Linked DNA regions of Homo sapiens: regions 1, 2 and 4 are each linked to region 3. The links come from fine-mapping of genetic effects on gene expression. A gene starts in region 3. Each other region holds a variant in brackets. All regions are shown on one strand. Distances are from middle to middle.

Region 1 (8,236 bases), 40 kb before region 3:
GGAGCATGAGAAAGCTGCAGATTCTGGGTCCCAAACCCCAGAGCTTGGTAACTCACACACTTTAAAATGAGGGTAAATGACAGGCCGGGCGTGGTGGCTCTCACCTGTAATCCCAGCAATTTGGGAGGCCAAAGCGGGCAGATCACTTAAGGTCAGGAGATCAAGACCAGCCTGGCCAATATGGTGAAACACCATCTCTACTAAAAATACAAAAATTGGCCGGGCGTGGTGGTGCACACCTGTCATCCCAGCTACGCAGGAGGCTGAAGCAGCAGAATCACTTGAACCCAGGAGGTGGAGGTTGTGGTGAGCCGAGATTATGCTACTGCACTCCAGCCTGGGTGACAGAGTGAGACTCCATCTTAAAAATAAATAAATAAATAAATAAATAAAGTGAGTGTTAATGATAAAAAAAAGAAAATAGCTACTTCACCTCAGATACTTGAAAGAACTTTGATTAAGACAAAGAATGAACATATTCAATCTGCTAAAGGCATTTCTTCAATAAGGGTCTAACTATCAGACTGGAGCCACGGAAGGCAGAATATGGAACCCTAATACATTTGCATGCAACTGAAATTTTGTTTTTGCCTACAAAAGGAGATACATGGAAAAAAGGGAATACTTTGGACAGAAAATCAAGACACAAATCAGGCACTGCCAAAAATAAATCACATAAAACTTTTTCTTTGAATTAAGAGAATTTATACAAATTTGACTTCATAAACAAAAGAAACTATACATCAATAATTACCATAAGGCATTATTGCTCCTAAAGTATTTGCCACCAAAAATAAGTCATTGTATAATTCTAATTTTAATAATCTTAATTACGACACAATTTAGGTTTATTTTCTACCTTTATAATTTTGTTGTTGTTGTTTGTTTTTGTTTTTTGGGTTTTTTTTGAGATGCAGTCTCACTCTGTAGCCCAGGCTGGACTGCAGTAGCATGATCTCAGCTCACTGCAACCTCTGCTTCCTGGGTTCAAGCGATCCTCCTGCCTCAGCCTCCCAAGTACCTGGGACTACAGGTGTGTGCCACCACACCCGACTAATTTGTGTTTTTGTTTTTGTTGTTTTTCAGTAGAGACAGGGTTTTACCATGTTGGCCAGCCTGGTCTTGAACTCCTGACCTCAACTGACCCGCCTACCTCGGCCTCCCAAAGTGCTGGAATTACAGGCGTGAGCCACTGCGTCTGGCCTCTACCTTTACAATTAAATAATAAAATCTTCTGGGAGTTCATGATCCCTAGAATTATCATTGATTTAAAATTATTCCATTTTTCAAATACTTTTCTTAGAAATAAAAAGTAAAGTCATTAAAATATGTTAATTTCTGTTACTTATACATTTTTAAATCATAGGTTAAAAGACTCTGATTGGGACATAAGACTGTATATATTTCAGGAATAGTTTTTCCATAGATATAATTAATAACACTTAAAAATAAGAAAAATGTTTTCCATACCAACTATAAGCTTTTAAAAAGTACAGAAGCATATCCTCAAGATGTGAAGGCACTGGGGGATGGAGGACACCTTGTTTCCTCAGCTCAGAGCTTAGCTTTCTCCTTAAAGGTCTCCTTCATCTTTTTGACAACAGAAAGGTCCCCTGCTCCCTTGGGCCAGTTGTCATGATCTGTTAAAGAAGTGGAAAGCCTCCTGTCACTTGCAAATCTCATTTGCCCTCTTCACTCCCACCAAATCCTCTTGTTAATTTCCCTGGTTCACACATTTTCTCAGCACCAAAAAATAAATCCTTAGGGCAAACATTTGAGAAAAGACTTCAATTTGAATCTCAGGTCTGCCACACGTTAGCTTTCCTGAATTTGGGCACATGTCTCTTCCTGAGCCTCAGTTTCCTCCTCTATTAAAGGATACAACAATATCTACCTTTTAAAGTTGTGAGGGTTAAATATGACACCATGTGTGCAGTGCTTCGCATACTGTGGATCGTCAATAAATAGTGTCTCCTTAATAATCACAATTTAAAAATAGTGTCCTTACTTTGTACCAGGCACTGCTACTTGCCTCTCCAGCATCCAGGTCCCCATCTCTTCTTTCCAACAGCTTGTTTCCATTTAACGATCTAGAAGGTGCCAGGGAAGCTTGGCACCAAGGCATGTGGTCTAAGCTAAGTCAGTCAGTGCACTATAACCCCGCCACAGTTATTGGTTGGAAATGGACATTTGCATAAGTTGATCGAATATAGAGTGGATCTCAGAATTTTGTTAGAAATTCTGGAACAAAGTCACTCCTCCAGCCCTCTCTCTGTGCATCTGGGTATGAACACAGAAGTATCAGCCTTACACATAGAAACAGCAGGCAGCCATCCTGCAATGAGGAGAGCCTGCCTTAAGATAGAGCCAACACCATGGAGGCAAAAACAGGAAACAGGGGAAAAACTTGTCCTTGATGAGATCAGTGAGCTACTAAGTCAAGTCTTACCTGTTTTTCAGTTATGTGCCAGCGAATTCCTTTACTGATGAGCCCATTTTGAGTTGTGACTAAAAGCATCCAATTCGACAAATGACTTTATTTTTTTAATTTTTATTTTTTGAGACAGGGTCTTGCTCTGTCAGCCAGGCTGGAGTGCAGTTGTGCAATCATGGCTCACTGCAACCTCGACTTCCCGGGCTCCAGTGATCCTCCCACCTAAGCCTCCCAAGTACAGGCACATGCCACCATGCCAGGCTAATTTTTTAAATGTTTTGTTGAGACGGAGTTTTGCCAGGTTGCCCAGGCTGGTCTTGAATTCCTGGGATCAAGCAATTGGCCCACCTTTGCCTCCCAAAGTGCTGAGATTACAGGTGTGAGCCATGGTGCCCAGCCCCTGACATAGGGATTTAAATGTGCATTATCTAAGGCCAGGCACAGTGGCTCATGCCTGTAATCCCAGCACTTTGGGAGGCCGAGGCAGGCGGATCACCTGAGGTCAGGAGTTCGAGACTAGCCTGGCCAACATAGTGAAACTCCATCTCTACTAAAACTACAAAAAAATTAGTGGGGCATAGTGTCGGGCACCTGTAATCCCAGCTACTCTGGATCCTGAGGCAGGAGAATTGCTTGAACCTGGGAGGCAGAGATTGCAGTGAGCCGAAATCATGTCACTGCACTCCAGCCTGGGCAACAAGAGTGAGACTCTGTCTCAAAAAAAAAGAAAAGAAAAAGTCCCTTATCTAATTTAATCCTCCCAACAGCTCTATGAAATAAATACTGTATGTGTCCCTGCATACAGGAACAAAATAGAGGCTTATAGAAATTAACTTTCTCACAATCATACGGCTAATAAGGGTAGAGCCAAGTTTCCATCTTAGGCATTCTCACCTTGGAGCTGCCAATCTTAAAAGAAAACACCATAGTGAAAGGCTGAATAATCTCATTATTCGGGGGGCAGTATATTCTTAAAAGATAGATGTACCCGCTTTCCTCAAAAACTGAAAAAAATATTTTTAATGATAAAAAGTGTTAGAATTACAAAAGAAAATCATGTCACTGAAGGCCTAAGGAAGAAGCTATTTGAAATTTCTTTCCCTTCTAAAGGTAAAACAGTGCAACCTGCGATAAGAAATAGTGACTGAAGTC[T/C]ACTGTGAGAGAAGTGGAAAGATTCTCTCCACCCTCACTACTTGGAATTTTTTTCAGAAAACAATATGGCAAAACCATGTAGGTATTTCTTCTTTCCAACCAAGACCCTTAAAACTACAGTATCCTATGGACATCACCACATTGATGTTATTAGTAATGAAATACATGTGGGAGGGGAAAATAATAAGTAAAATTAAAGTTCTATACTGTGATATTGTGAAACATATATTTGGTCTTCAACCCCATCTCCCGCATACAACTCCTAATATCCTAGACTCGCCAAAGTGATGTGTTCTTATATGTTAATGATTGACTGATGGCTGGCAGCCCCTAGTTAGCTTCAGTATAGGGGCTGGTCACCAGACAGACCAAGGCATGATTACAGGGTTGGGACCTTCAGCCCATACCCACCCCACAACCTCTGGGGAGGTAAGAGGGGCTGAAGGTTAAGTTGATCACCAGTGGCTGATGGTTTAATCAACCATGCCTATGTAATGAAGCCTCCATAAAAACCCAAAGGACTGGGTTCAAGAGCTTCCAGATAGCTGAACACATGAAGGTTCCTGGCAGGTGGTGGGGCCAAAAAGGACACAGAAGCTACGTGCCCCTTCTCACATGCCTTGCCCTGTGCACCCCTTCGGCTGTATCTCCTGTAATATCCTTTATCATAAACCAGTAAATCGAAGTGTTTTCCTGAGTTGTGTGAGCTGCTCTAGCAAATTACTCCAACCCAAAGAGGGGGTCGTGGGAACCCCAACTTGAAGCTAGTCAGTCAGAAGTTTTAGAGGCCCAGACTTGTGATGGTGTCCAAAGCAGGGGGCATCCTGTGGGACTGAGCCCTCAGCCTGTGGGATCTGATCCTATCTCCAGTGTCAGAACTGAATGAGAGGACGCCCAGCTGGGGTCTGCTGCAGAACTGCTTGCTTGGTTGCTGTGCGGGGGAAGTAACCCCAAACAACTGGTCACAGAAGTCTTCCGTGCTAATGGTTGTTGTGTTGTGAGAGCAGAGGAAAACCAGTTTGAGTTTTTGCTCGCCTCTCACATACACCAATCATTTATTAACGCAAAAAAGGCCTTAAGCCTTGATCAGACTGTCAGCACCTGAAAGAGTACGTAGACCCTGGGTCCTTGATATGAAATTCAGATTCACCTGGGTTACATCAACCATCTATTAATTTGCTAGTAGCCACTTAATTATCTTTAACAACAGAAATTCAATACATTTGCATTTTATACCCTTTACTACATTTTTGGAGTGATTTAGAGTTATTAGCTTAGATAAACCTTTTAACGTCTGTGGATTTGTTTTGTTGTTTATAAAACTAGGATACTGGACTTTGTGATCTTTTAGGACCCTTCAAACCGCAAAGTTCTGTTATCTAGTCATGAGACACACACACACATAAAGGCATTTGCATGTAATATCAATATTTGATTTAAACTTATAAAACTTCTGGTTTTTTTTCTTGAGACAGAGTCTTGGTTTATCTCCCAAGCTGGAGTGCAGTGGCATGATCTTGGCTCACTGCAATCTCCGCCTCCTGGGTTTACGTGATTCTCCTACCTCAGCCTCCCAAGTAGCTGAGACTACAGGTGCCCGCCACCACACCCGACTAACTGTTATATATATACATACGTATATGTGTATATATATATACACATACGTATATGTGTATATATATATACATACGTATATGTGTATATATATATACACATACGTATATATGTATGTGTATATATATATACACATACGTATATATGTATGTATATATATACACATACATATATATGTATGCGTATATATATATATTTTTTTTTGAGATAAGAGTCTCACTCTGTCGCCCAGGCTAGAGTGCAGTGGCACAATCTCGGCTCACTGCAACCTCCGCCTCCCGGGTTCACACCATTCTCCTGCCTCAGCCTCCCAAGTAGCTGGGACTACAGGCACCCGCCACCAAGCCTGGCTAATTTTTTTGTATTTTTAGTAGAGACGGGGTTTCACTGTGTTAACCAGGCTGGTCTCTATCTCCTGACCTCAAGTGATCCACTTGCCTCAGCCTCCCAAAGTGCTGGGATTACAGGCATGAGCCACCATACCCGGCCAAATTTCTGTTTTTGTACATCAAAAATGATGAATACAGAAATTTCATATGCCTTCATTCAATATATATCTCAAAGAGAGCACAAAATAGCACCATAGCACCCCACCCCACCTAGCAGGCCTGATTCTTCTGCTCAGATATGTAAGCCATTTACTGGAGGAACAAAATGGAATTAAATCTTTAAAACTATAGCATGCTCTTGCCTCTTTTCTGTCTCCTCTTTCGAAACATATACTGAGAATATTTTTCAGGGTTCAAATTCCACCAACCTATGCATGCACAAAAAGCTCAGTTCCATAATATAGATAGTTAGATATTTTCTGTGACTAGGAATATTTCATTAAAAAAATCACATCATGAATATAAACATTTTGTACATTTTGATGTTCTATAAGAGAGCACCCTCATCTCTTAAGTAACTACTTATAATAAATTTTAAACCCCTGAACATGACACAGCATAAAGCTGGTGACTGCTCATTCCTCAGCTGCTCACCTGGTACCTCATACGAGTGAGTATAGAGACTCCGGCCCCCATCCACATCCACCGACTGTCCAGTGATGAAGGAAGCTGCAGGAGACAGTAGGAAGCAGACCACAGAGGAGACCTGGAAACAGAAACACACATGTGCATAGGTAAAAGCAAATACTCCCCATTTCTAACCGCCTCACATTCCCCAGTAAAGGCATCTCAAAGCCCATGATTGTAACATGAATCCAACAGTGTGTGCATGTGCACCACAACCTCACAGTACATAGACAACTTCCTTTTCCTACAATTTCCCTTTCTACCTGAGCATCACCGAAATCAGGTAGGTGACTAGGGTAAAGGTGGCAAGGTATGAGGGAGCCTTAGACGATGTCAAGCAAGCTACATGACGTCAAGAAGCCATAAGTGAACTCAGTGCTTCAGCTCTGCTCTTTCCCATTTCAAACAATTCACTTCCTTCCATGCCTTTCATTGTCCTCCACAACCCCATTTTCCATCACTACCTCGTGCCTTTTATGTTTTGGTCCCTGAAATAGTCAATGTGTCTGTTTAGCAATAAACTAGCATTCTGGTTTGTTCAGTCTGCGGTCCTGTCAGGCCAAAAGCCCAGCAACACACATTCAAAGGAGCTCTCTACAAGAGGAACTTCAAAAACTTAGCCAGGCACAGTGGCGGGCACCTGTGGTCCCAGCTCCTTAGGAGGCTGAGGTGGGAGCATTGCGTGGGCCTAAGAGGTTGCAGTGAGCCAAGACTGCACCACTACATTCCAGCTTGGGTGGCAGAGTGAGACTCCATTTCAAAAAAATAAAAATAAAAATAAACCAAAGGCACTTCAGACTCCCACTGTACTCCTTAAAAATTCAAATAGGGAACTGATGAGTTCAGCAACATCTACTCCCAACCCAAACAGAAGGAAGTTATTTCACTGACTTGTAAAGGAGCTCTCACTTGAGGCTGTGGGAAGAAGCAGAGTTTCTCAAAGGGTGATGATCCAAAACACCTGCATTAGAATCACTAGGGATGCTTACTGAGACTTCAGATTCCTAGATCCTTCCAGGATCATTGCAATTGTAAGCTCTGGGGTTGGGGTCCCAGAATCTGCAGTTTAAAAGGCCCCCAGGCAGGGCCAGGACTAGGGTGAGGCAAATAAGGTGTCGAGGGTGCAAGATTTAAGGAGGTATTCACTCTCAGGTTTGCACAAGTGCAAAATCTTCCCTCAGAGGGAGTGGGTCCTTAAATTTTGTGTCCATGCCTTGCTTGCCTCATCCCAGTCCTGGTCCTATATTCACAAGGCTATACCTCCTTGAGACTCTAAGAGCTTGGAGAGCAGCCAAGCCTTCTCTCCATCCTTGTATTCCCAGCAGCTAGTACAGTGCTGCACTATCTAAAACGAGGCCATTAGACATAGTCGCCTACTCAAACACTTTCAGTATGACTGGTCCAAATTGAGACGTGCTGTAAGTATAGAACACACACTGGATTTTGAAGACTGAGTATGGGAAAAATAATGTAAAATATCTCATTAATCCTGGATGCTCCGAGGGATGAAGAAAATCATCTCAATTTTCCATGTTGATTACATGTTGAAATGACGATGTTTTGGATGTATTAGGCTAAGTCAAATATATTATTAAAATTAATTTCACCTCTTTTTACTTTATGTGGCTCCTGGTAAGTTTAAAATTACAAATGTGACTATTAGTATATTTCTACTGGACAGGGCTGGTATAGAATTCACTATTTAAAAGGTCCCACATTACTGTGAAAAGGCAGATTGTACTGAGACATGGTAACAAGCAACAGAGCTGGTTTTAACCCTGTTTGATCCAGTAGTGACAACTCAGCCAATGAACATGTTTGTTAAAGTCAGCGCATCAAAAAGAGACTTGCTCCAATGAGCTCCTTTCTGAAATGCCATCCAGACAACAACCATCCCACCCAAGTAGTCACAACCTCTAACAATCTGTAAACCACACTCCCTCAAAAACACAAAAAACCGGCCAGACGCGGTGGCTCACGCCTGTAATCCCAGCATTTTGGGAGGCCGAGGCAGGTGGAT
Region 2 (8,236 bases), 56 kb before region 3:
CGTCAAATTTATGAACCACTGGCAGGGTTGTTTAGAGTATGGTCTTTGGCATAACAGTGCTTCCCTGTGGCTGCTGTCAGGATTGGGTGAAATAACACAGAAAGCCCTTAGTACAATTTCATGGGAAATGGGAAGCACTGCGTAAACGTTAGCTGCAATTATTGTTAAGTATTCATACTTTAGTCAGATCCGACCCCATCACCTTCCATTGCCAACTGTGACCATCTGAAAGGATTCAACTCAACAAGTATTTATTATCAACTGTGTAAGCATGGCACTGAGCTCAACCTCTTGTGGAATGCAAAGATGAAAAACAAACAGTACTTGGCCGGCTGTGGTGCCTCAGGCCTATACTCCCAACACATTGGGAGGCTGAGGCAGGTGGATCACCTGAGGTCAGGAGTTCAAGGCCAGCCTGGCCAACATGGTGAAACTCCGTCTCTGCTAAAAAGACAAAAATTAGAAAAATTAGCTGGGTGTGGTGGCTGGCTGGCACCTGTAATCCCAACTACTTGGGAGGCTGAGACAGGAGAATCACTTGAACTTGGGAGGTGGAGGTTGCAGTGAGCTGAGATAGTGCCACTGTGTTCCAGCCTGGGTGACAAGAGCAAAACTCTGTCTCAAAAAATAATAATAATAACAGTACTCATCCTCAGAGTACTATCCAGAGCCAAAAATAGAAAATTATGGAACTCAAATGTTCTGTATTCATCTATGCCTCGAGTCACCCATCCTTCAGTTCCTACCATGTGCTCTTCCCTACCTCACCCCCATATTTCCCATGATTAACTATGCTGCAATCTCTAAGTAGATTCTTATAGCTAACTATGTTGTCATCTCTAGTCTCCCATAGTTAATTATACTGCTACGTCTAACAATATTCCCACTTTAATTATATCTCCATCTCTAACTATACTCCTATATTGAACTCTGTTGTCACAGCTAATTCTCCTGCCATAACAAACACTTTCCAGATGCCCAGAACAGTCTCAATTCTCAGCCCCAGAGATGAGATTTGGAATTCAACCTCTTCCTACCTCCGGAAGACAAGCCCCCTACTATTCCAAGTTTTCTGTGTTCTCCAAAGTCTCTCCATATTATACCTAACCAAAATTAAACATAAGCCTAGACCCAGCTATCATCGGTGTGCTTCCTAATTCAATTAAACTCTAAGAAGCAGAAGCAGAGTTTCTAAGAAGCATTTATTAAGCACTTGCTATATGCAAGGTGACTCGAAGTTGCAAAATAGGAGAAAATATGCATCAAAAACTGTAGTAGGAGAAAACCTGAGCATCATTCACATTTGCTATGAAAGGCGACCGGAGGCTTGCCTCAACTTTAAGCCCAGATCCTACCCATCTGAGTGTTAAAGATAACCGAATTTATGCCTTTAAATTCGTGTTTTTAGTTCACCATTCCTTTATATGGTTTCTTTCTCCACAACACTCAAGAGATACATCGACAGGCCAGAACCCTGCAACTCTCCCGGACAAGTTCTACCAAAGTAAAGACAGCAGGTGGACCTCCCCGACAAAGGTTATATACAAACCTTAGACTTCCCCACAAAGGTTATATACAAACCTTCCTATAATCCTCTGTGCTGCCACCTCCTGGCATCCAATTGTAAATTCACTGCAGTCTCTTTGGAGATGGGGCTAAGGATCTCAAATAGGTTCTAAAGCTTTCTTTTACTCAACAGATGGAAAGCTGCTGTAGCCACAATGCCTGTATGAACCTAGAGCTTAAAGGGACATAGTAATATTTAAGTGGGAGATTTAAACTAGCTGTAAACTAAACTCTAAACCTGTTAGGGCACTGCTAAATTGAGCAATAAGTAAATCCTCTCTTTTCTTGGCTACCATGTGCCAAATAGCTTTGATTATTGTATTACTATTTCATTTCATCTTATTAAGCATTGGTATTTGATTTATTAGCCTGAAAACCATGGAAAGTGTATAGGCCACTAGATATATTTCTTAAATAATATAAGGGAAGCAATTTAAATGAAGCATTAAAACTTCTTGTTTTTACATTTTATTTCTCTGAGTGTGTGTGTGTGTTAGAGTCTCACTCTGTTGCCCAGGCTGGAGTGCAGTGGCACAACCTTGTCTCACTGCAACCTCTGCCTCCAGGGTTGAAGCGATTCTCCTGCCCCAGCCTCCTGAGTAGCTGGGATTACAGGCACCCACGACCATGCCCAGTTAATTTTTATACATTTAGTAGAGACACGGTTTCACCATGTTGGCCAGGCTGGTCTCAAACTCCTGACCTGAAGTGATCTGCCCATCTTGGCCTGCCAAAGTGCTGGGATTACAGGTGTGAGCCACCACACCTGGCCAGCCTCTCCAACTGATAAATGCTTAATATTAAATATTTTGCTTGACCAAAGTAGAGGGCCCTTTCAAGTATATGCCATGAGTACCCCTTTGAATCACTTTGTGGAGCTGAAACTGGATGCCTCTAAGCTCCACTCTCCCTTGCCATGCCGAGCCTTTCAGGGTCTTCTCTCCTTGAGCTCTTTTCAATTTAGAAAGGTCTTGTCACTTCAGGTAGGGAATTTAAACTGGGCCACCCCTCCCTATCACTCACATCTTTCCTATGTACCCCATAAGAAGACCAGGTGCTGGCCAGGCACGGTAGCTCAGACTTGTAATCCCAGCACTTTGGGAGACTGAGGCAGGCAGATCACCTGAAGTCAGAAGTTCAAGACCAGCCTGGTCAACATGGCAAAATCCCATCTCAACTAAAAATACAAAAATTAGCCAGGCATAGATCACACCACTGCACTCCAACCTGGGTGACAGAGTGAGACTCAGTCTCAAAAAAAAAAAAGGACGCCCCGTGCCCTCTCTTTTGTCCCTAAGCCAAATGACTTATCAAAGTACTCCTCAGTCCAAGGGAGAGCAGAACCTGTCCAATTGTTGTTAAACAAATACGGTTTCTTGCCTATAGAAAATATATTGGCTGGGTGTGGTGGCTCATGCCTATAATCCCAGCATTTTGGGAGGCCGAGGCGGGTGGATCACCTGAGGTTAGGAGTTCAAGACCAGGTTGGCCAACATGGTGAAACCCCATCTCTACTAAAAATTCAAAAGAAAAAAAAATCAGCTGGGCATGGTGGCTCACCCCTGTAATCCCAACTACTTGGGAGGCCGAGGCAGAAGAATTGCTTGAACCAGGGAGGCAGAAGTTGCAGTAAGCCGAGATCACGCCATTGCACTCCAGCCTGGGCGACGGAGCAAGACTCTGTCTCAAAAAAAAAAAAGGAAGGGAAAGGAAGGGAAAGGAAAAAAAAAAGGAACGGAAAGGAAGGGAAAGGAAGGGAAAGGAAAGGAAAGGAAAGGAAAAAGGAAAAGGAAAAGGAAAGGAAAAGGAAAGGAAAGGAAGAAAGAAAGAAAATGTATTATAAAGATGAACTGGCATAACAGTTTGTATCCCTTTCATGATTCCTGGCACTGTGACATCCCTGAAAAGCATGAGAATGCATGAAAATGCACATCTCATTTTAATGTTTATGTTTTCTCTATGGCAACATAGGAGAATGGTTTTGTAGTAATGCAAAACTCATTAATAAAGGCAAAATCCTTAGCTGCCACCCCACTGATACCCAGAAGAGGTTGATTTAAAGATCTCGACAGGACAAAAATTGTAAAACTAAGAAAGAAGACCTCTACTACCCACAGACAGCCCAGTAGCTCAAAAGCAAAGCTTCTCAACTTAGAGGAGGTGCAGACCTTCCTTCCTTCTAACTGGCAGAAAATCTGGTACTGCCAATTAGCTTCCCAGGAAAGCTAACTCTGAGATGGAATTTAGCATACAGGAGATTTATTATGAGTGTGCATAGAACCAACACCTGTGGAAAAGAAGGGCACAAAGGAACTGATTGGGCCTCAGTCAACCCTATGGGGAGTTCTAAAGACAGAATGAAAATTCAGAGCTGCTCTGAGTCAGTCAGTAAGCGAGAACTGGCCCTTTCTGTCCCCTCCATGACAATCAGTCTTTGGATGAGGCCTACCTGGGAAAGGAACATGGCCTTAGCCGAGGCAGCCCTCTTCAGCAGAGGCTGTCCCAGAAATGGGCTGACAGCTAGGGCCGTGTCGGGCAACACTTCCAGCAGCTCCTTCCTTCCGGAGGGAGGATCTAGAGCCCGTGAATCTCAGCAGCCACTGCTCGGCAATCCCTGCACCGAAATCCATCCGTGTGGGCAGTCACACAAGCTCAGGATTTCCTTCCTCTCAAAATGCCAGGAATTCTTTTATCAGATTTCTTTAACATAAGATGAAGTCCTCCAGGCATGAACACTTAAGCCTTCAGCCCTTTGGAGGGAACATTCTAGAAATAAGGTTCAGGAAATTGTCCACAAGTAGAAGCAGTCTCACCCACATAAACATGATGAAAACTCTTCCCTAGAAGTACTGACATATGCTACAATGTGGATGACCCTCAAAAACATTATGATAAGTGAAAAAAGCCAGACACAAAAGGTCACACATTATATGATTCAATATACATTAAATATCCATAGAGAGACATAACTCCAGCTGATGGCTGCTGGGGACAGGGGTGGGGGACAGAATATGAAGAACAACTGCTTAATGTATATAAAGTTTCTTTCTGGGATGATGAAAACGTTTTGAAACTGGACAAAGATGATGATTACACAACATTGTGAATGTGCTGAATGCCACTGGATCATTCATTTTAAAATGGTTACTTCCATTGTGTTTATTTATTTATTTATTTATTTATTTTTGGAGACAGTGTCTCACTCTGTTGCCCAGGCTGGAGTGCAGTGGCACCATCTAGGCTCATTGCAACCTTCCCAGGGTCCAGCGATCCTCCCGTCTCAGCTTCCTGAGTAGCTGTGACTACAGGCATGCGCCACCATGCCCAGCTAATTTTTTTATTTTTTGTAGACATGGGGTTTCACCATGTTGCCCAGGCTGGTCTTGAACTCCTGAGCTCCAGCAATCCACCCGCCTCTGCCTCACAAAGTGCTGGGATTACAGGCTTGAGCCACCACAACTGGCTAAACTGGTTAATTTTATATTATGTCAATTTCACCTCAATTAAATAAAATGGGGTAAAACATACACACACACACACACTCAAACACAAAAAATCTCTTCCCTGGGAACAGCCCACTTTATGAAAATTAATGCTCTACTGTAAGAACCTTAATTTTTTAATAACTAGGAATTACTAAAATGTTACTCTGTCTTCAGAGTAAACTTACATCACATAAGGCAAATCAGGTAAAACTATCTGTACTTAAAATCAAGCATCCTATCCATGTAGTAGGCTCTGGATAGCCAAATTATGTAAATCTGTACTTTAAACATGAGAGATAACTTCTGTCTACATGTAAAGAATATTTTCCTTCAAAAGAAGTTTGAAGTGTTATGATCATATACTCTTTAAAGTTTCTTGAAATAAAAATGATGTTTAGAGATTTCAGGGTCTCCAAAATAATTATCCGTTTGCAAAGACACCCTCCAAACAATTCAAAGATACTTGATGAAATCAATCATCTCTTATTGGTAAAATGTGAACGGTGGTATAGGAATATTTTGCTGTAATACATTTGGTGTTTGGTGACAGAAAGACAAAACAATGGTGTGAATATACTTGTTGGAAGCTAAAAAATATGTGAATTGAACTATCTTTAAACAGATAATGCTGTGCCACCACCATTTCACCACCATTACCCAGTAGAGTTCGAAGCTCTCTAAGAGAAATTTAACTTTGAAGTAAGAATAATAGTCTAAAAGCCACAAGGTACCCAGGTGCAGTGGCTCACCCCTATAATCCCAGCACTTTGGGAAGCCAAGGTGGGAAGATCATTCGAGGCCAGGAGTTCGAGACCAGCCTGGCCAACATGGTGAAACCCCCATCTCTACTAAAAATACAAAAATTAGCTGGGCATGGTGGCACATGCCTGTAATCCCAGCTACTTGGGAGGTTGAGGCATGAGAGTCACTTGAACCTAGGAAGCAGAGGTTGCAGTGAGCCAAGATCACACCACTGCATTCCAGCCTCGGTGACAGAACAAGAATCTGTCTCAAAAAAGAAAAAGGCATGAGGTAGTTAAGA[C/T]ACTAGGACCTTGAAAGAAGGAAAGAAACAGAAAGTGTCAGTTTAAAATTTGCCTAATATCAAAAATGTCCATTCTGAACAAGAGTCAAGCCAACTCTCCCTTCCCCCACCCTCTGTGATAAAAAGTCATTCACAAGTTGCATTGTTTTTCTGAAAGCATTCTAAATCTGAAAATGTCGAATAAATTTTCAAAGACACTAAATTTCAAAATACACTTAAAGTCAATTATTTAATAAAACTTGAAATTTTAATGTTTAATTCTCAACATTATAGTTTTCTGATTTTTCTATGTAAATACAGTTACTTCACAAGGAAAATTTTAGAATTTGAGGCAGGGCATTTTGACTTCCATACAAGAGTTTGGACTTCTACACTAAAACCAAATAATGCTTCATGTAAATATAATGTAAAACATAGGCTTTAAGTGGAAATAAATGACATGTATAGTGTGGTATGGTTGCAAACCATTGAAAGAGATGTCTTTCACGAACTTGCTCAAAATACCCAGATAGGCCGGGCACGGTGGCTCACGCCTGTAATCCCAGCACTTTGGGAGGCTGAGGCAGATGGATCACGAGGTCAGGAGATCGAGATCACGAGGTCAGGAGATCCTGGCTAACACGGTGAAAGCCCGTCACTACTAAAAATACAAAAAATTAGCTGGGCGTGGTGGCGGGCACCTGTAGTCCCAGCTACTCGGGAGGCGGAGGCAGGAGAATGTCATGAACCCGGGAGGCGGAGCTTGCAGTGAGCCGAGATCGCGCCACTGCACTCCAGCCTGGGCAACACAGCAAGACTCCATCTCAAAAAAAAAAAAAAAAAAAAACCCAGATAATCTGAAAATATATACAGATCAATGGAAAAAATTCCATTTGATATTTCTAGGCAGGATTTTAATGTGTGATAGCTGACATAGATTTCCAGTAATTGTGTATTTATTTAATTCCATTTTTTCTCACTGTACTCTAGATATTTTCTCAAACATACTTGGATTTTGGGAATTCGAATTTGTATAGTGTTAAGGTAATGCATATTTGAATTTATCTTGCTGTTTGAGAAATTTGAATTCTACCAATTACAGACAATTCTGTAATTGTCTATAACAACAGTAGGAATTGCACACTTAAAATCATTAAAATGGCAAAATTTATGTTATATATATTAGTTACACCACAATAAAGAAAAAGAACATAAAAAGGAAGAAAAAAATAAGGCTTTTTCTCTGAGAGAGAAAAAGAGAGACACAGTTTTGGTTTTCCCCCCATTGGAATATGGAGTTAAGTGCAGACCACTCAAGATACACAAATTTCTGACCAGAGCACTTACAAGTAGCAATTCCAAAATAAATACCAGTACAATAAAAAAGATGTTATATTCATCTTTATTTATTTATTTAAAAGGAAATAAATAATTTCCTGTAAAATAAAAGGATGAAAGCAGCTTGATGGCAGCAGATGTAAAGAAGGATTGAGGCTGGCCAGGCGTGGTGGCTCACGCCTGTAATCCCAGCACTTTGGGAGGCTGAGGCAGGCAGATCACGAGGTCAAGAGATTGAGACCATCGTCGCCAACATGGTGAAACCCTGTCTCTATTAAAAATACAAAAATTAGCTGGGCGTGGTGGCGCGCTTCTGTAGTCCCAGCTACTCAGGAGGCTGAGGCAGGCGAATTGCTTGAACCTGGGAGGTAGAGGTTGCAGTGAGCTGAGATCACGCCACTGCACTCCGCCTGGCGAGAGAGTGAGACTCCATCTCAAAAGAAGGATTGAGGCTGCTGAGTTAGGACGACAAAGGCAAAATGATAAACACAAGGCAGAAGGTGCTTATGCACCTCCCCCTGCCTCCAGGCTGGCCCTTGGGCTTGAAGAACTAGAAACACAAACTTGTTATCCCTCTTTCCAGAGTTCTCAAAATACAAGGATGCTAAGTCATGCTCACAAACTCGCCAGAAGCTGAAATACACAGCCTAGACTAACACAAAACTCCCAGCATGGCTGAAAATGCCTAGGGCCAGAATAGTCCAGTATTTCCCTTCAGGCAAAGTTGCACAGCAAATCAAAGTTTTAGATTTGTTTTTGACAGGGATTCAGAGGAAAAGGAGATGGTTTAATGAATTTAGCTCTGAGAGTCTCATGCATCATTTTA
Region 3 (8,236 bases):
AGCAAAAATATCATCATTTTAAAAACCATGCCTCAAAGTTCATGCCAAAAAGACATAGTTCACACCAAAAAACCAAAACCAAAAACAAAAAACAGTGGCCTTCTGACTAGAAAGAAAACTGGAGGCTAGGCGCGGGGCCTCCATGCCTGTAATCCTAGCACTTAGGGAGGCTGAGGCGGGCAGATCACTGGAGGTCCGAGTTCAAGACCAGCCTGGCCAACATGCCAAAACCCCATCTCTAGTAAAAATATGACAATGTCGTGGAAATAGCCATTGATTCTGGCATAAAAAAATAAAGAGGAAAAAGTAATTATAAAAATGATTTTTATGGCCAGGCCCGGTGGCTCACAGCACTTTGGGAGGTCAAGGGGGATGGATCATAAGGTCAGGAGTTCAAGACCAGCCTGGCCAACGTGGTAAAACCCCGTCTCTATTAAAAATACTGCTCAGGAGGCTGAGGCAGAGAATTGCTTGAACCTGGGAGGTGGAGGTTGCAGTGAGCCGAGATTGCGCCACTGTACTCCAGCCTGGGCGACAGAGCGAAACTCCATCTCAAAAAAAAAAAAAAAGAAAAAGATTTTTAATATTCTTTCACTGAAGGAAATCCATTTCCAATACAACAAAATAATTGTGTATATATATTTTTAAGTATATGATGTCTTTTTCTCAAAAGACACGCCACCACTTTCATCAGAATCTCAGACAGATTCATGTCTTCCAAAAGATTACAAGACCAATGTCCTAATGTTTTAGTTTGTGGTAAGAAAAATATAGTCTATCACCTTATTCCAGGGGTGTAGTTTTTGGCCAATGCATATTTATGCAACAGGATGAAAGTTCAAATAGCACACTTATGCAACAGGATGAAAGTTCAAATAGCACACTTATGCAACAGGATGAAAGTTCAAATACATAAAAATCTATTAAAAATCCTTCAAAGTGGACTAGGGTCCTACGAATCTGCTGAGAAGCCTAGTATCTGACCTATGCATGAATTGATAACTGATTCTGATTTTCTTACAGATATTCCTGAAAGAGGATAGAGCTTGGTGTTGAGAATAAACTGGGCAGTAATGGTGATGAGGTTACATCATGGCCTTACTAGGAAATGTTTTTGCTTTTTTTTTTTTTTTTAACTAAAAACATAGATTTTTTTTTTTTAGTTCATACTGTGCCAGATGTTGGAAACACAGTCGTAACCAAAGATAATTTAGATGTTCATTAAAAAATATTTAAAAGACGAAGACAATTTTAATTACTCATAATTAACATTATTTTCAGAAAAATGGCTAAAAATCTTATAAACTTCCTTCCAGTCCATTTTTGCATATGTAATACTTTTTTTTTTTTTTGATACTGAGTCTTGCTCTGTCGCCCAGGCTGGAGTGCAGCGGCACGATCTTGGCTCACTGAAACCTCTGCCTCCCGGGTTCACGCCATTCTCCTGCCTCAGCCTCCTGAGTAGCTGGGATTACAGGCACACGCCACCATGCCTGGCTAATTTTTGTATTCTTAGTAGAGACGAGGTTTCACCATGTTTTCCCAGGCTAGTCTCGAACTCTTGACCTTGTGCTCTGCCCGCCTCGGCCTCCCAAAGTGCTGGGATTACAGGCATGAGCCACCGTGCCCGGCCCTGCATGTATATATTTTATTAAAAGTAAAATTGGGCCGGGCACGGTGGCTTACGCCTGTAATCCCAGTACTTTGGGAGGCCGAGGCGGGCGGATCACCTGAGGTCGGGAGTTGGAGACCAGCCTGACCAACATATAGAAACCCCATCTCTACTAAAAATACAAAATTAGCCTAGCAAGGTAGTGCGTGCCTGTAATCCCAACTACTCGGGAGGCTGAGGCAGGAGAATCGCTTGAACCCAGGAGGCGGAGGTTGCAGTGAGCCAAGATGGCGCCACTGCACTCCAGCCTGGGCAACAAGAGCGAAACTCCATCTCAAAAAAAAAAAAAAAGTAAAATTGGAATGCTATTAGGTTTAGAATTCTACTTTTCCCAATAATATGGTATGCATTTCTCCAAGTAAGTCTTCAATAGCAAGATATTTATTTATTTATTGAGATGGAATCTCGCTCTGTTGCCCAGGCTGGAGTGCAGTGGCTTGACGTCAGCTCATTGCAACCTCTGCCTCCCAGGTTCAAGCGATTCTTGCGCCTCAACCTCCCAAGTAGCTGGGACTACAGGTGTACGCCACCATGCCTGGTTTGTATTTTTAGTAGAAATGGAGTTTCACCATGTTGGCCAGGCTGGTCTCAAACTCCTGACCTCAGGTTATCTGCCCGCCTCGGCCTCTCAAAGTGCTGGAATTACAGGCGTGAGCCACTGCGCCAGGACCAATAGCAAGATATTTAAACGGAAGCATTATATTTCATTGTTATTGATTTAACTATTTTCCTTATATTGGATTTTTAGGTAATTTCCATTTTTTCACTACTCAAGACTACATCCTTGCATGAAAATCTTTGCTTGACTCCGTTTCCTTAAATTCCTGAAAAAGGAATTACTGTCATAGAGCATAAACATTGTGAAGGTTTTTGGATCTTTTTTTCCAAATTGCCTTCCAGAAAGTTTGTAATAATTTACATTCCTGCCTTCTCATTCCTGCATCAACACTTTAATTTTTCCCAACATTTCAAAATTTTGTTAGAAAAGTTAAATCTTACTGTTTCATATTTTATTACCAATAAAGTTGATTATTTTTTCATATGTTTCTTGCCTGTCTGTAGTTCTTCTTTTGGAACGCTTAGTCCATACCATTAGTCTAATTTTTCTATCAGTGTGTTGGATTTTTTCTTTATTTGTAAGAGCTCTTTATGTATAAGGCTGTTGGCCGAATCTAGTGGCTCAGCCTGTAATCCCAAAACTTTAGGACTCAGAGGCAAGGCAGGAGGATCCCTTGAACCCAGGTGTTCGAGACCAGCGTAGGCAACAGAGTGAGACCCTATCTCAAAACCAACAAACAATTTATCTTATGTTGCAAATATTTTTCTTCATATGCCTTTAAACTTTATATATTTTTTTAATTCAATGAGGATTTACACTTTCATACAGGTAGATTGATTTATGTTCTCCTTTGTGGTTTATTCCCTCACTTATGTGTTTACAAAGGCCTTCCTTCACCCAAGTTAAGGTAAATATTCAGCATATTTCCTTGCTGTGGTTAAGAGATGTGAGAAGATACTATGAGAGACTCACTATGTTCACAACTTTTTCCAGTTAAATGAAGTCTTCCCACGTTTCCTAATCACTCACATTAAGCATATAGAATGGATTAATTTTAAATCTGAATATAAAACTAATTGCACAGCATGTTTCACTGCTCTTCTTACTGCCTACCTGGGGCACAGTCTCTTTGGCCTGAGTGGTCTCTTCAGTTTTTAACGAGTGGCTCCACAATTCCTTAGGAAGAGCTGCTCTCTTCTGTCTCCCTGGTGGTCGTAATTTCGCCCACACCTGCCCCGTCTTTGCTCTGCAGCTCCACACTCCCTCAGCCCCGCCGAGAGCTCCTGGCTCCCGTCTCCAGGTTACCCCAGGTCACCACAGCCACCTCTCTGCACCAGCGGCCCGCTCACGTACCCAGCTCCAGGAGCTCCTTCACGATGGCTTTTCCGATGCCCGTGGCCCCGCCGGTGACGATGGCCACTTGGCCCTGCAGCAAACCAGGCGCCAGGTAGCTCCTGCCCTTAGCCCAGGAGGCCATCCCTGCAGCGGGGTGCCAGAGCAGCTGAGCGCAGGCCCTTCTGGGTCTCAGGGACATTCGAGGCGGGCGGGCGGACAGGGCGGTGCTCGAGCCCACGTGACCACCAGAACCCCGCACCCTCCCCGGCCCGGCCCCGCCCCGCCCGCCGGCCGCGGCAAAGCCGCATCCTCCCGGAGCAGAACCGCTCCCCGCCGGCTGTCCGCAACCTCCGCCAGCGTCGGTCCCTGGGCAGGTGTGGGTGAGACTGCTCGTTCGTTTCTTTAAATTTCGATGCCATTGGGGAGGGTGGAAGGGAAATGCAAAAAAAAAAAAAGAAGAAGAAAGAAACAAGCAGGGTGTGCTCTATTTCAAAAATTCAATCCTCAGGGCTGAAGCTCTCACGATTAATTAAAATTAAATCTCCAGTGCAGCTGGAAAAAGAAAGGCTGCTGCTCGGCGCCCTCGCTGCGCCCGCCTGCCGGGGTCGGACGTCGGCGATGCTGTGGCTCCAGGTGCTGTGTGCCGCTGGCTGGGAAGGGGAGAAAGGGCAGGCTTAGCTGAGGGGGAGAAATGCGGCTTTCAGATCCTTTCATCCTTCGGGAGGGAGCCCGGGAAAGAGAGTGAAGGGGAAGAGGAGATGCGGTTGCAGTTTTCCACAGAACCAAGAGAATAAACGATTTGAAAAAATAAACTCAGGCCCACCTCCGTCTCACCTCCCACTCCCCACCCAAGAATCAAGGGGAAAGATCATCTTTACCAGGTTTGAGACCTGATCCATTTCAGCTGAGCTGCATAGCGAGTCCAGAAGAGGATCTTTCCTTGAAGGGTGCACGCTTCCTGCAAGATGCATCTGTAGGTGTTTGAGATCATGTCCTGTAGTTCATTCCTTGTGCAGGAGGGTGAGCCCGCTGAGGATGGGGAAAATTTCTCGTCTGTGTTATGGTGCCCAGTAACAGTGATTTATTATTCAGATCTGCTCCTTATTTTTCATCTTGCTTCCCGCTCTGAACCCACCAGAGTGAGATTACACCTGGACTGGCCTACTGAGACTTCACCCTAAGAACTTGGTCGAATGTGCCAGTTGCTGTGGTCTTAACAATCCAGATGGGATGCTATTTCTAAGGCTGTTGTCAGAGTGTTGCATTTTCCCCGGACAGGTATTAAAATAATATAAAGGCAAATAAATGCCATCATCCTTTTGTTGGACCTACCACCTAGGATTCACAAAGCCAATTGGAAATGGGTCTGGTTGACAGAGGAATCAGACCATCACTTCCTCCACCAGGTCCCACCCACCAGCGAGGCTGCAGTTCTTGTTGGACAGCTACACTTCCCTGTTGCTCCATCCTCTTGTCCTTCTCTGATCTCTTTTTAGAATCACTTCTCCCTCTATCTTTGTTGCTGACAGATTCAAATCTACACTCGTTAAAGAAAGGAATAAATCTCCTGGTTACCATTTGCTAGATAGTTTATCCAGGAATCACTTAACTCTACTACTTAAGTCAATTCTGTAGTTAGGACCAAATTTTTAAAATTACAACGCCATCACCTCCTTTAAAACAAAGTAAATTCAAACAGGAAAGCTCAAAGTGTTGTTGCAGAAACATATAACTCCTCTTGGTTTGATCCCAATGACAAGGTGTTTTTTTTTAAGGAAAAGAAATATTGATTCAGTTCTGAGGGGTATCTTATTCAAGAGAAGTCCAGACTTTCTTTCTTGTGGGTGGGGACACTTTAAATTCTTTTAAATGATAACTTTATTGAAGATATAACTTAACATGATTTATGCCCTGGTCTGGACCTATAGATTCTTAGAGGTGTGCCAGGGTGGGTCAGTGGGAAGCTGGCTGTGCTGCAGCTTCCGTGTGGCTGCTGAGCGGACTGAGAGTGGGATTCTGATGTCTTCCAGTGAAACAGGGACTGGGGCCTGCAAACCGGTTATGCCTACTGAGGATGACAAGGTGCCATTCCTCAGCTGCAAGGAAGTTGCAGGATGAACAGTCAGAAGGCGATTTTTCATGATCCAGGCAGAACCTGCAATTAAGAGAGCTTTGGGGTCTCTTCAAGCGATCTTTTGTTTAAAATTAGGAGGCATGATCTCTTTGCCTCTGCCTCTGACCTCTGTCAGGGTTTGAAAGTCCACTAATCCGCTAAGTTCCAGGCCAAAAGGCCTGGAAGCAGAGCAATAGATCTGCTGCTTGGAAGCTCTTTGTTTTGAAATTTTAGTTCTGCCTCTGGTTGAGGCATCTCTTCCGAAGGCAACCACGCCATGCTGCACTGACCACTCCTTTGGTTGAATCAAATGCTGCTCTTCCCTGTGCTCTGCGTCACTGCCCTCTTTGTCCTGGGGAAAAAGGCATTCCTGTGGCCAAGGTCCTCCCACACCCCCGAACCTCTCCCCACAGCTCTGTCATACCCCATTAGCAATGACTGCCTTCAGCTTCCCACCCCTCCCCCACCCCATCTGCCTGGTAACTTTATTTTCTCCCCTCTGCAAAGCAGCTGCTAGCTCAGACTGACAGGGGCTTGTGGGATTCTCGACATTTAGACTCCCAGAATCTCAGTGCTGAGAGAATGTCAGTGAAGCATCTGGTCCTGCCCCTACCTTGAAGCAAAACTACCTAGCAATTGTGCCATAACAAGGCATATAAAGGAGCTTATTGATGTCTTTTTATTAAACTTCTCCTTAGTCTCAGGCTTTCACAAAAAATAAGCTACTCCTGAGTTGCTACCACTTCACCCAGTCACTTAAAAAGATTTATCGAGCATCTATTTGTTGGCCTACTTCTATGGTACCACTTCATAGGGCTTGAAGTCTAGTAGAAGAGCTATGCAATAAATAAGTAAAAGAAAAATAAATAATGACAAATGTTGGTAAGCCTTACACAGGAAACAAGCTGTTGTGATAAAGAATAATGAGAGGCAGAGCAGGGAGTCAAGTTTTTAGTTCGGGTGTCAAGAAGGGCTCAGAGGAGGAAACATTTGAACAAGGACTCAAAAAAACAAAAACGGGCACAGGAAGAGGCGGGGTGGAGCAGCAGAGCAGCAAGATAGACAGCAGTTAAGAAGACCTCAAGCATTTGGAAGCATTTGGTGCTCTTGAGGAAGAAATACACAGCCAGTGTGATTGGAGCATAGTACCCCTACTATGGTGGTACAGATGGGGTGGCAGGATGGGGAGGTCCTTAGGCCACATGGACTTCCACATGTATAACAGTAGGAAGTTACAGGAGGATTTTAAGCAGAAAACAGCCTGATTTTCTTTTTTATTTTTATTTATTTATTTGACATGGAGTCTGGCTCTGTATCCCAGGCTGGAGTGCAGTGGCAGCGATCTCGGCTCACTGCAGCCTCTGCCTCCCAGGTTCAAACAATTCTCCTGCCTCAGCCTTCCGAGAAGCTGAGACGACAGGTGCGCGCTGCCACGCCTGACCATCTGATTTTCTTTATGTTTTAAAAAGATGTTTCTGGCTGGGTGGCTCATGCCTGGAATCCCAGCACTTTGGGAGGTGAAACCCCATCTCTACTAAAAATACAAAAATTAGCCGGGTGTGGTGGCACACGCCTGTAATCTCATCTACTCGGTAGGAGAATCAGGTGGGGGAGGTGGGGGTTGCAGGAAGCTGAGATTGTGCCACTGCAGTCCAGCCTGGGTGACAGAGTGAGACTCTGTCTCAAAAAATTAAAAAAATTAAGTAAAAGATGTTGCTTACTGCTGAGTGAGGAATTGATTGGAAGGCAGCAAGAGTGGAAGCTGGAAGATAGGAGCATTTTTTTTAGAACCACAGTTAAGAGACAGTGGCCTCCTAGACCAGAGGGGAAGCAGTGGAGATGGGAAAGTTGGGTGGATGAATTTAAGAATTATCTGGGCCGGGAGCAGTGGCTCACGCCTGTAATCCCAGCACTTTGGGAGGCCAAGGCGGGCGGATCACCTGAGGTTGGGAGTTCGAGACCAGCCTGACCAACATGGAGAAACCCCTTCTCTACTAAAAAATACAAAATTAACTGGGCATGGTTGTGCATGCCTGTAATCCCAGCTTCTCAGAAGGCTGAGGCAGGAGAATCGCTTAAACCCAGGAGGCAGAAGTTGTGGTGAGCTGAGATCACGCCATTGCACTCCAGCCAAGGCAACAAGAGTGAAACTCCATCTCAAAAAAAAAAAACAAAAACAAAAAAAGAATTATCTGGATAATTTTTTTCAAGAGTGGCTTAAAAGCAGTTATTCTAAGCACGAGTTCCAGAGTATGAGCATGTTCTTAAAAACCTGTTTTCCCTCCTACAATGACCAAGAGTACAGAGCTAATGGTTGATTGAAGCTAACACTCTGTAATATCACATTTGTAAGAATCTTTTTTTTTTTCTGAGGCAGAGTCTCACTCTGTTGCCCCGGCTGGAGTGCGGTGGTGTGATCTTGGCTCACTGCAACCTCTGCCTCCCGGGTTCAAGCGATTCTCCTACCTCAGCCTCCGGAGTAGCTGAGATTACAGGTGTGTGCCACCATGCCTGGCTAATTTTTGTATTTTTAGTAGAGGGGGTTTCACCATGTTGG
Region 4 (6,356 bases), 48 kb before region 3:
CTCAGCTCACTGCAACCTCCGCCCCCAGGTTCAAGCGATTCTTGTGCCTCAGCCTGCTAAGTAGCTGGGATTATTAGCATGCACCACCACAACTGGCTAATTTTTGTATTTCTTTCTTTCTTTTTTTTTTTTTAGTAGAGAGAAGGTTTCACCATGTTGGCCAGGCTGGTCTTGAACTCTTGACCTCAGGTGATCTGCCTGCCTTGGCCTTCCAAAGTGCTAGGATTACAGATGTTTTGATTCCATAGTTTAATTAATTCTGTGGGCAATTTATTTCGGCATTCCAATTTGAACACACAAGCCCACTATGAGGCCCATTCTCTCTCTCTCTCTCTCTCTCTCTCTCTCACACACACACACACACACACACACACACACACACACACTCTGTCCCTGCTCTCTCTCTCTCATTTGCTTGCTCATCAAAACATCTGCTCTGTATCTCACTGAAATATCTGTCTTCTGTTTCATTCCTCCAAGTAAAATGGTAACAACGCGTTAGAAAGAGTTGCATAGGCCAGACATGGTGGTTCACGCCTATAATCCCAGCAGTTTGGGAGGCTGAGGCAGGCAGATCACCTGAGGTCAGGAGTTCGAGACCAGCCTGGCCAACACGGTGAAACCTCATCTCTACTAAAAATACAAAAATTAGCTGGGCATGGTGGTGGGCGCCTGTAAACCCAGCTACTTGGGAGGCTGAGACAGGAGAATTGCTTCAAGCCAAGAGGCAGAGGTTGCAGTGAGCTGAGATTGTACCACTGCACTGCAGCCTGGGCAACAGAGTGAGAAAGGAAGAAAGGAAGAAAGGAAGAAAGAAAGAAAAGAAAGAAAGAAAAAGAAAGAAAGAGAGAAAGAAAGAAAGAAAGAGAAAGAAAGAAAGAAAGAGAAAGAAAGAGAGAAAGGAAGGAAGGGAAAAGAAAAGAAAGAAGGAAGGAAGGAAAGAGGGAGGGAGGGAAGGAAGGAAGGAAAGAAAGAAGGAAAGAAAAGAAGGAAAGAAGGAAGAAAAGAAAGAAAGGAACAAGGAAGGAAGGAAGAAGAAAAGAAAGAAAGAAAGAAAGAAAGAAAGAAAGAAAGAAAGAAAGAGAAAGAAAGAAAGAAAGAAAGGGAAATGAAAAGAATTGGATAAAAGCATCCATTTACCCCAATTCCCCTAATGTCCATACCAGCCTACCTCCACTTCACAATCAATCCCATTGAAACTAATCCAGATTCAATGTCTCACAGCTAAATCTCGCAGCAAGTCTTACCTACCTGAGGACTTTATCTTCCTCCTCATCTTTTACTATAAACTCTAATTGAACCTCTCTACTTCTCCGTATTTTTGTATTTCTTAAATCATCAAGGATTTTTAAAAGGCTTCAGTAAAACCAGAAATAGGCTGTTCCTCTCTTCTTGGTTCATCTGAGAACAGGAAGCCAGACATCTAACAAAATAGCCTTTGATAGACAGCTTTTCATGCAGAAGGTAAAATTACAGGGTAAGAAATTCTAACTTACATCTACTGTGAATCACTTACAGAAATGACTCTTTTTCTTCAAATCCTTGCTATTTAAGTCCATGATAATCATTTGCATTTGAAAAAGCTGACTCTGTTGAGTCATACTTAGAACTACAAACTCTGACTAAACTTGTAACTCAGTCCAGAGAAATGAAAACAAAAGCCAAATGGTCCAAAATATGCAAGAGAAACAAGGAATATTGTTTTTACTTTGCTGATTTGTTTGAGTTTTTTTCCAAATTTACCAACTGGATATAATTTCCCCACTCAAAGCATATGAACTCAGGTACAACAATGCTATAGAATAATTGGATGACATTGTCCATTTCTTGCAACCCTCCGTTGACCCAGTTGGCTTATGCTAGAGCTGACTAACTGGTAATGCTAACCCAGCATGGGAGGCTGACCAGGGGTACAGGGGTCTTCCTAGGGCCTGCAGAGCAGAATCCAGGTCAGAAGGCAATAGCTTTACACCATCAAACATATATTCTATTTGGGACCTGGTCTTCCACTCTCTCTGCCACACTCATGAACCACCATAAACTACAGGAGGCTCAGTGCAAACTCCCTCCTGTTTCTCCCCAGTAAATTTTATATGTAGTCAGCTCACTCTTCCCCATGTTACCCCCATCCAAATAATTCATTTTGGGCTCAATAATTGCTAGTTTTGATGTAGCATACCTTTCTTGAATACGGTTTAGAATCTTCCTGCTGGTTGGTCTTATTTCAATAGATGCCTTCTTTGCTGAAATGAAATCCTTGTAAACAAGGAGTGCAGAAGAAATACCAAAGCAAAAAACTAAAGCTCAAGTTGAAGCTTTGCAACCAGGTCTTGAATCCTAAGAAGGCACTGCTCAGACGGGCTGGTGTTCCACAACCAACCACAATTATTTGAATACAAATAATTCATTCATAATTCATGAGGCCATTTTCATTTTACACATTTTAAACCTTTACACCTTTTAGTTGGGGAACTTCTAAACTTACCCAAGATTGAGAGACTAGTAGAATTAACCATATAATGTATAATATAGCTGCAGACAGATAATGTATAATGTATCTGCCACCCAGCTTAGACAATTATTACCATGTTGCCAATCTCATTTCACCAACCCCCCTTCCTCCATTTTTTTAAGTTGGAATATTTTAAAGTAAATCCTAGAAATCAACATTTCTTAAATAAAAAATAATAACAACTGCCATGCCATTATCACGTTGAATAAAATGACCAGTAATTTTGCATACAAATTCCTCCGCTGTCTCAATGCCTTCACAAGAGCGAGTAAGTGGTAGAAGCTGGGATTCGAA[C/A]CCAAGCAGTTGGACTCCAGTGCACTCTAAAATCTGTACTTCATGGAAAGAGAGAATCCAACAAGAGCCCTGAAGGAACTGGCAGAAAAGGGCAAAATAAGCAGAGAGAAACAGGATGCCAGGAAGCAGCAAGCAGAAAGGTCAGTAACCTCAGCAAAGGGTGGCCTCAGTCAAGAAGGGGATTTCAAGATATTTCCTATTGCGGAACTGAAGACCTCAAGGAGAACAAGTCTGAAGGCTGCAGACAAGAACAGGTGGTGGGCCTACCTATCTTGGAGTGGGGAGGAGACCTCTGTAAGGCAATGTGAATGCTGATGGCATCAGGACTTGGCAAATCTTAAGACTCTGACTCCCACCAGGCAGAACGCAGGACTGCCTCTCACTAGACTGAGCCACGGCTGCTTGAAAGCTGAAACTAACCCACAGAGGGCCTTGGTTACCATACAAATCAGAAATAGTGTTGTCCAGGATAAGATCCAAAATAGCCTAGAGATTTGGCTGTCTTAAAACATGGGCTCAGTAATCGCTAGTTTTGACGTAGCATACCTTTCCTGAATATGGTTTAGAATCTTCCCGCTGGTTGATCTTATTTCAATAGATGGCTCCTTTGCTGAAATGAAATCCTTGTAAACAAGGAGTGCAGAAGAAATACCAAAGGAAGAAACTAAAGCTCAAGTTGAAGCTTTGCAAGCAGGTCTTGCATCCTAAGAAGCCACTGCCCAGACAGGCTGGTGTTCCAAAACTAACCACAAGGTGGCACTGCTTTGAGCCAAGCCCCAGGTCATGTTAAAAAATGAATGAGATCAATGGTGAAGTTTTACAGTTGCAGAATAGCCAAATGGCAGCCATGAAAAGAAACCCCTTAGACCTCCTGCTACAGGAAACAAAATTGATTGGCTGTGGGTCCCAGCTGCTGCCCCTCTCCATCCATCACTGCCTTCCCCTCGGGCTGCTCCTGGCCTGTGACAAGCACAGCCCTGCTGTCCATCTAGGCTATTCCCTTGGGACAAGGGTGGTTCCCATGGGTGACTTTGCCTTGAGGACTTCCCATCTGCCTGGCCCTCTCTTTCTTGGACTGTACTGCAGTCTGTGATATTTTTTTTTCCTACCCAATTCCCTTCCTCCTCTCTCTCCTTCACAGTTGTCAGAACTTCATTATAGCTCTATTCAGGAGTGGCCCCGTGATGGTGGAGATGGAAAATCTTTCTAATGGGCAGCGTGTGAGAGTGCAACTGGTATCTACAATGGAATGAAAAGTGGCCCGAGATGAGAATATATACAGTGGCCAGGAAACAAGGTCTGGGGTAGAGGATTACGGATGAGCCCAGGGGAGTGGGCGCTCCAGGGGAGTGTCATTTCCGCCTCCCACGTTAATGTCCCCAGAATGCAATCCTCATGGAAGAGGTGTAGAACAACCAAGCAGTCAAGAAAACTCAGCCAGTTGATAGCTGGACTTCATCACCGGCCAGCCCAGAACTGGTGTGACAGGCACAGTGATGGAGGCAGGCTGTAGACGGCCCATTAGCATGGACTCCCTGTTAACCAAGGTCAACGGAGCTGTCACTGCCCCTGCATGTCCAACCTTCCTGCAACACAGATCATTGCTGAGCCCTGAAGTGGCATTGCTCTTTAAGGAGACCAATGGGCCACAGGACGGCCAGTCGACAAGTGGCAGGCTCCAGATGTAATTGCTCCTCTGTTCTGAGAAAATGGATCTGGGTCCTCTAAGTTGTTCCCCTGAGCCAGCGGGCTCTGAAGCTTTGTTGGGAGAGGGTGATGGAGAGACATTGGAGGAGGAAGAGGGTTTTGCTTCCTGACCCGTGCAGTGCAGACTGCTTCACAGGAGTGCTAAGGAGCACCAGCTTCCCAGCACCTCCCTCAGGGGGTTTTGCATCAGAGGCCTCTGGTAGGACACTTCTCTGTACAGTTTTCCCCAGGATGCCAGAGGGCAGGTTTCTAGCAAGTTCCACCAGCAGAGCACCACAGTGACTTCTCTGCCCTCCACTGATTCACAGCCATGCCCTCCCTACTCAATCTGGGTGTCAGCCCCAGGGGTGCTATGGAGGGCTCTTCTTTTTTTTTTTTTTTTCGAGACAGGGTCTTACTCTGTCACCTAGGCTGGAGTGCAATGGTGCAATCTTGGCTCACTGCAATCTCCGCCCTCAGGTTCAAGTGATTCTCCTGCCTTAGCTTCACTAGTAGCTGGGACTACAGACGCCCGCCACCAGGCCGGCTAATTTTTTGTATTTTTCATAGAGACGGGGTTTCACCATGTTGGCCAGGCTGGTCTCAAACTCCTGATCTCAGATGATCTGCCCACCTCAGCCTCCCAAAGTGCCGGGATTCCAGGCATGAGTCACTGCGCCCAGCCAAGGTTCTTCTTTGAGCTCTCAGTCTTAGTCCTAGTGGTGCAGGCTACTCCTGATATCTGCTATTCTCATGTTCAAGTTCTTTTTACTTCCTACTAGCCAGTCCTTCACTACTCCAATCTGCTGTGATAATCACTCTTCACTTTTAACTTGCCCTGTTCAAATTGCTGTGTGGTTTCTGCGTCACTCCTCATAGTGACAGATACCTCTTCCAGGCAAGAGTTTGTCTTTCCTGCCTGCAGGGACTCAGACACCATGACTATCTGGGGGCTATAGAAAGCCTGAACCATAGGCATGGAATCCCATGGGGCATAGCATCCAATCAGGTGACTCACCTCCCAGTGAAGGAGACGAAAGAGTGAGCCCCTGGTTGTGGAACCACTGTGTATCCACACCCCGCACCATCCATAGGCAGCCAGCCTCATAGAGGGCTTGAACAACCAAGACCCAGCTGAAGGGCCAGGATGGAGTGCTTGCTGTCTTCAAAGATGCATGTCCCCAGTAGGTTTGGGACCATGTCTGGGATCCGGTAGATGAAACTGGGAGTGGCCCTGCATTCCATCATTCCCAATGATCTGCTGCAGGATTTAAGGAGAATAGCAGCACTGGAAATCCTGGTGCCAAAGAGGGAGGCTCTTGCCAGGGGACATAAGGTCCCAGTGAGCTACAAACTATGACTGATGCTGGAACTGATCTCTGAACTCCCTTTGTCCAGGCACCAGCAGGAGGAGAGAGAGTTACTTTTACACTGTAGAGAATCCACATGACCCACTGAGCGCCTGCTGGTATTCCTGTGGGCCACTGTAAATGTCAATGCATACTTTCAGCAAGCCTGTCTTAAGAAAGCATCACTTTGCTGCAATCTGAGATGCCTCCTGCCCAATCCTCTCTCCCCTCTCTTTTACAGGGGTCAGCCTTGCAGCATGGTCTGAAGGCCATCGCTGCCTTCTCTGGCTCCCTGCCCTTATCCTTCATGGGCCTGGTACCCAATAAGTGTCATGCAAATCTCATTATGTCTGGGCACCTGCTTTTCAGAGGACCTGAACATAAGCCACAAAGCATAAGATTAGTGTGGGGGAGGTATAATGTTCACAAGGGTCATCTTTATCAACAAACTCTTTTTACATAAATATAGAATTTTCATTTTGTTTCCTGTCTTTCAGTTATATGCCGTGGACATC

The links. PIP is the estimated chance that this variant, and not a neighbour inherited with it, causes the effect.
Region 1: its variant is fine-mapped to the expression of PECR in whole blood (INTERVAL, PIP above 0.99). The same link has a PIP of 0.9 or more in blood mononuclear cells.
Region 2: its variant is fine-mapped to the expression of PECR in whole blood (INTERVAL, PIP 0.93).
Region 4: its variant is fine-mapped to the expression of PECR in whole blood (TOPMed, PIP above 0.99).

The regions. Positions count from the first base shown.
Region 1 is chr2:216,037,721-216,045,956 of GRCh38, forward strand. It overlaps PECR (peroxisomal trans-2-enoyl-CoA reductase), which reads right to left. Exons shown (of 8, transcript NM_018441.6): 7 at 6,184-6,295; 8 at 668-1,640. The coding sequence ends at 1,555. Among named protein-coding and RNA genes, the nearest start is that of MREG, 28 kb to the left of the region's middle. The variant T/C (reference allele first, on the strand shown) is at 3,587.
Region 2 is chr2:216,021,630-216,029,865 of GRCh38, forward strand. It overlaps a transcript of MREG not described here and a transcript of PECR not described here. Among named protein-coding and RNA genes, the nearest start is that of MREG, 12 kb to the left of the region's middle. The variant C/T (reference allele first, on the strand shown) is at 6,094.
Region 3 is chr2:216,078,034-216,086,269 of GRCh38, forward strand. It overlaps PECR (peroxisomal trans-2-enoyl-CoA reductase), which reads right to left and starts at 3,776. Exons shown (of 8, transcript NM_018441.6): 1 at 3,585-3,776. The coding sequence starts at 3,708. TMEM169 (transmembrane protein 169) reads left to right here and starts at 3,886. Exons shown (of 3, transcript NM_001142311.2): 1 at 3,886-3,946. RefSeq lists enhancers at 3,378-3,457, 3,488-3,537, 6,662-6,731 and a silencer at 3,728-3,987.
Region 4 is chr2:216,030,610-216,036,965 of GRCh38, forward strand. It overlaps a transcript of MREG not described here and a transcript of PECR not described here. Among named protein-coding and RNA genes, the nearest start is that of MREG, 20 kb to the left of the region's middle. RefSeq lists an enhancer at 1,646-1,875. The variant C/A (reference allele first, on the strand shown) is at 2,807.